Linked DNA regions of Homo sapiens: region 2 is linked to region 1. Evidence: fine-mapped QTL for protein levels in blood plasma. Region 1 holds a variant in brackets. A gene starts in the other region. All regions are shown on their forward strands.

Region 1 (2,900 bases):
TGTACTCAATCAAACGTTTATGTTCACCCCCACACATACAGCTCGCTCACGCTCACAAGCTTACTCCCTCATGCACACTCACAATCACCCGCACACACACCCTCACCCCCACCCGCCCACTCACCCACACCCCCGTGCCCCCAAGCCCCTCCTCCCGCTGAGCACGGCAGGACATCCCTGCAGGTTAACAGCAGGGACCATGTGCTGGAGCCCAGCTGGGTTCGACTCCAGGCTTTGCCCCCCGGCCCGGTGTGTGGGCACGGCGGGAACCTGGCTGCCCCGTGCGTGAGATGGGCAGAGCCCAGGGACCCCCGCCACCATCTTGGGGACAGGTCGGGGAGCAGACGTGGCCTCTGAGATCCCTGGTTGGGGTTCAGCCTCCGGCCAGCACTAAGCATTACTTAATTAGTGTCGTCCCTGCCTGCCTGCCTGCCGGGGTCAGGCCATTCCTGGGAAGTTTATGTCCTCCCCTGTGCTTCACCCATGACAGGCTGGTCATTATCACCTTTCAGATAATCCTCAGCTGCCGCCAGCAATCAACACCTCGTGCCCCCCTGCCCCCTGCCCAGTCTCCACTCCCACCCAGCATGCCGCATCCCAGCCACCTCCAGCTTTTTGGGACACATTCTTGGCCTAACAGCTCAGGCTATTTCAGATTCACAGATAAAGGGGCAGGAAGTCTTGATATATTCCACCCCCACCCCCCACCCCCCGCGTTGTTGACTCCCCTCTTCTCCCCAATGATCCCTACTCCAGGAAGCTCACCCGGATTGTCCAGGTCAGAGGCCCCAACTCTATGGCTTGAACCTGGATTCGAAGGCTCCTTGGGGTCACTCCACAGGAGCACACCTGCTGTCAGCCCCGCTCCAGGCAACACCTCGGTGGCCACAGCAGGCGCCCTGCGGGGTATGCAGGGGCCAGGGAGTGCGTGACACACGATCCAGCTCCGAGTTGTAGCCTTGCTCTGGGCCTGAGGCCAAGGAGGGCGCGGAGAGGAAGAGACAGTGTTTGCAAACAGGGCAGCTGCCAAGCAGGGGCGGGGGAGAGAGGAGGAAGGTGCGAAGGAGAGAAGGCCCAGGCGGCGCCCGCCCGCGGCGCCTGCGTGACCTTCCCACCCTGGCTACACATTGACAGGCATATGCGCGCACACACACGGATCCGATGTCCACACATAGCAAGTCACATTCACTCCCCATACACACAAGTACGTCAGCACACACAAGCTCAGATGCTCATGCAGACACAGC[A/G]GGCACAAAGCTGTATTATCATCCACGTGCAGTGAGACACACAACGCCATCCTCCCTCCTTTCCATGCATATGCATTCACACACGTGCACACACATGCTCACACATGCACACTCACACTGGCGTACACATACTCATGCTCACACATGACATTCACACTTGCACACACGTGCACACACACTTATGCTTACACATGTACACTCACTGGCGTACACACTCATGCTCACCCACGAATTTACATGTGCACACATGTGCACACTCATACATGCACACACATTCACACTTGCACACATGCACACACACATACTCGTGGACACATGAATACTCACTGGCACACATACTCATGCTCACACATGACACACACTTGCACACATGTGCACACTTGTACTCACTTATGCATATGCATACTCAATCGCACACACACGCACACACTCACACACACTCATGCACAGGACAGTCACACTTGCACATATGTGCACACTTGTACTCACACGCACGCACACACATTCATACTTGCACACATGTGCACACACACGCAAGTCATGGACACACACGCACAGTCACTGGCGTACACACTCATGCTCACCCACGAATTTACATGTGCACACATGTGCACACTCGTTCACACTTGCACACACATGCACACACATACTCGTGGACACAGATGAACACTGGCACATGCTCACGTATGACATTCACACTTGCACACATGTGCACACTTGTACTCACATATGCATATGTATACACTCAATCGCACACACACTCATGCACACAGGACATTCACACTTGCACATATGTGCACACTTGCACACACACATTCACACACATTCACACACATGTGCACACTCACGCACACACACATACTCATGGACACACATGCACACTCACACTCATGGACACACATGCACACTGGCACACATACGCATACTCATGGACACATGCACACTCACACTCATGGACACACATGCACACTGGCACACATACGCATACTCATGGACACATGCACACTCACACTCATGGACACACGCACACTGGCACACATACTCATGCTCACACATTACTGACTTGCACACATTTGCACACACATGCACACACTCACAATTGCACACACGCGCACACACTCGCACAATGTGCACACTCGCATGCACGCACACTCACACTCAGACACGTGCACACTCACTGGCACACACTCATGCTCACGACATTCACACTTGCACAGATGTGCACTCTCACACTCATATGCACACGCATACACTCACACACATGCACACTCACACACACTCATGCACACATGCATATAGAGTTCCTTGATGGAAGCTTTGAGAACCATATCTTTCATTCCATTGTTAGCACACAAACTTTGGTTTGGTAAAGGAGAGGGATTCTTAGAAGCAGGTGGCTCACTCCCTCCTGCCCACAGCTCTGCCATCAGGACCCCCTGCAGGACAGCAGGGAGGCTCAGGCAGCACCATGAGCTCAGGCAGCTCATCCTCGCCCCTCCGTCTCTCTCTCTCCCTTCCTCTCTGTCTCTTTTCTGTCTGTGTCTCTCTTCCTGTGTTTGTCTCTCTCCATCTCTGTTTCTCTCTCTGTCTCTGTCTGTTTCTCTTTCTATCTCTGTATGTGTCTGTGTCTGTTTCTCTCTCTCTCTTCCTCCA
Region 2 (2,838 bases), not on the chromosome of region 1:
CAGGCAACAGAGTTGGGGGGACACAAGCAGGGAGTGGAGCCCGAAAAAAACGAACAAGCGGGGGCGGGGGAGTGGGTGCGGAGAGAGGACAGTCCATTCGGAAGAAAGCAAAATGCACAGAAAAGACAATGGAGAGATGAGCGCAGGAGAGGCTGGGAAGGCAGGGACTCCGAAAGGAGAAGGACACGGAAAGAAACCCACACACGTCATCAGGTCTGTCCAGCAGCGAGAGCCTCCCTCCCGGGAAACCCACCGACGCTCGCGCCCACCCTGATCAGCCCCGGGGAGCAGCTCCCCCAACAAAGGGTGGATGTGTAGACCCTCCACTTCGACGTGTCCGGAGCCCGGCGCAGGGAGGCTGACCCCCAAAGGGCCACACACCCACGCACGTGAACCCGCGTGCACGCGGCAGCCCGCGCATCCTCGGTGTGAGTGTGCGCGTGGAGATCTGTGAGCTTGGGAAGCGAGAGTGCGTGTGCGTGCACGCGCGAGGGTCACCGGCGCTTCGCTGGGGACGAGGCGCCGGGGCTCGCGGTGGACGCCGCTTTCCGGAGCTAGGGGAGCCCATGGACAGTCCCTGGGGCTCTGGAGTGGTTTCAAGGCTTCTCCATTCCAGGGAAGCGCCAGGTCCTGCTGTTTCTGGTGCCATCCGGAGACAAACAGAGATGGTTAATTAAAGCCACATGGCCCCCATCTGTTCCCAGAATGAAGCCTCCGCTCAGCTCAGGCACTCTCCTGGGCAATGGATTTTTGGAGAGCCCTCCTCGGTCAGCACCGCCAACCCCAGGGAACCTGCCCTCTGCGGTGGGGAAACCCAGGGTGAACCGGCCGAGGGTGCAAAACCCTGAGCGGGGGCCGCGGGAGGCCGCAGGGGCCGGGGCTTGGGCGCAGAGCCCGGGGGATGAGGGTCCGCGGCGCTCCGCGTGCGCTGTCTCCAGCCACCACCGAAGCAAGGGCGGTGGCGTTTAATCCCAGGGGCGTCATTTCCATCCAGTCCCTCTCCCAAGCCCCCAGGATCCCACGAAGGTGAGCAAGCAGCTTTTGGGTTTTCCTTCCCCATGCCCAAGTCCGTCCGCCTCCCCGCACCGTTTCCACGGAATTACCTAAGAAACTGAAAGCTAGCAACTGGAGAAGCCCCATGCCGGCTCCCTGCAGCCACGGGGACGCGGCAGAGGAGTGGAGAAGACGCCCGCCGAGCCGCCTGCCCTTTCTTCCCGTCTTCCTTTCTGGAGAGGTGGAAAGGAGGGGAAAAAAGGCAAATGTTCAAAGAGAGAAGAGGCGCCCTTCCATTTCCTGTCGCTCCCACGGAAGCGGGGGGTGGGCTGGAAAGTGGGGAAAATCGTGCAGCCACTTTGTTCTCCTCACCCGGCGACGCGAGCTCTCGCCCTGCTCCGGGAGCCCCCGAGCCCAAAGAAGGGAATTAGAAAGTTTAGCCTTGGGAGGAACAGAGGGAGGCGCCTCTGCTCATGCGCATACGGAGAGCCGGGGCTGAAGGGGCGGGCGGCCGCAACTCTGCGAGGACCGGGTGAGGTCCCGGTCCCACCCCCCGGGGCGCCTCTTTTGTTTGAAAGCCGAATCTGCGATCGCTGCGGGGCTGGGGCGCTTCCAGGTCCCAGGGCGGGTCCGCCCCGGGGTGCGCGTCCCAGAACGGCGCGCGGCGGGGCCGTCCAGCGAGGGGGGCGGATGCGTGGGGGCGTCTCCGAGGTGGGTTTTCAGGTTGCCCAGCCAGGGGGCCGGCGGGACCTACCGCGGACTCGCGCATTTACGTTCGCAAGAAGTGAATCACCAAACGTGCCCACGGCTAAAACTCTCGTGCGGTGCGCTCGGGGAAGGCGGGTTAACCCTTTAGAAACAGGGTCGACCTGTCGTGTTTGTTCTTTAGAAAGTGACACTTCCTCTCCGCCCCTAGTATCCAAGAGCTTGGGATGGGCGCGACATCTACAGTGTCTTCCTAGGAAGGAGGAGAAGCTCTGTGCGCCCTGCAATTCTTTGCGCACACATTTATTCAGGACCTATCTGTAATCCCTGTTACCCAGGTGGTCACGGCATTGAATTGAACGTCCAGTTCTGTTTTTAAAAAATCTACTTCCAACATGGTGCAACTCCATCTCTACTAAAAATACAAAAATTAGCTGGGCGTGGTGGCGGGCGCCTGTAATCCCAGCTACTCGGGAGGCCGAGGCACGAAAATCGCTTGAACCTGGGAGAAGGAGGTTGCCGTGAACCGGGATCGTGCCATTGCACTCCAGCCTGGGCAACAAGAGCAAAACTACGTCTCAAAAAAAAAAAAAAATCTTCCTACCTATATCCAGATGATGGCTTTAGCTCAGGTAATTCCTCAAATGACACTATTATTGTTACTGACTCCGTTTCCCATCTCGCCGTGGAAGAGTTGACACAGCCAGGAAGTGGAAATCTCTCATGAGAGGCACTTCCCCACAACGCTCATCTCGACGATTCTCCATGGTGTGCAAATGCTGAGGTGGGGAGAGGGCCTCTAATGAAGGGTCTCTAACAACACAGTGTAACCTGCCTGGTGAAATTAGGGGTACATAGAAACTCACCACCTTCTAGGGGTTGGAGAGGGAAAAGAGGTTGGTGACGGGACCCCACCACCCATTCTGCTACCCTTAGCAATGGACAGAGTCAAAGCTTGGAGTCCTGCTCTGGGCAAATGTGGCTGGAATTCAGGGAGTATAGTTAGTTGTCAGTCCAGTCAGGAGACTTGGCTTGTTTTCCAGTCATTTCCGGGAGAAGAGTTTAAGCGGCTAGCTGGTCAGTTTTTAACTTAGCTGTAACGAAATAAGGCCCAGAGAAGTTTAATCATTAGACCATAGA

Direction of the effects. Positions count from the first base shown, and alleles are read on the strand shown. Strength reflects both the effect of a copy and how common the allele is.
In carriers of allele A in region 1, the plasma level of the protein whose gene starts at base 1,416 in region 2 tends to be higher than with G alone (weak association).

The links. A credible set is the group of variants that fine-mapping cannot tell apart. PIP is the posterior inclusion probability: the model's chance that the variant is causal. The UK Biobank Pharma Proteomics Project read protein levels with antibody pairs (Olink). The fine-mapping took linkage between variants from a reference panel, not from the people measured, so its PIPs are less certain.
Region 2: LAMB1 starts here. The variant in region 1 is the best candidate, but not a certain one, in a credible set for the plasma level of the LAMB1 protein (UK Biobank, PIP 0.66).

Annotation. Positions count from the first base shown.
Region 1 is chr19:55,525,486-55,528,385 of GRCh38, forward strand. No RefSeq gene overlaps it. Among named protein-coding and RNA genes, the nearest start is that of SBK2, 10 kb to the right of the region's middle. RefSeq lists an enhancer at 672-1,546. The variant A/G (reference allele first, on the strand shown) is at 1,248.
Region 2 is chr7:108,001,746-108,004,583 of GRCh38, forward strand. LAMB1 (laminin subunit beta 1) reads right to left here and starts at 1,416. Exons shown (of 34, transcript NM_002291.3): 1 at 1,366-1,416; 2 at 1,104-1,226. The coding sequence starts at 1,140.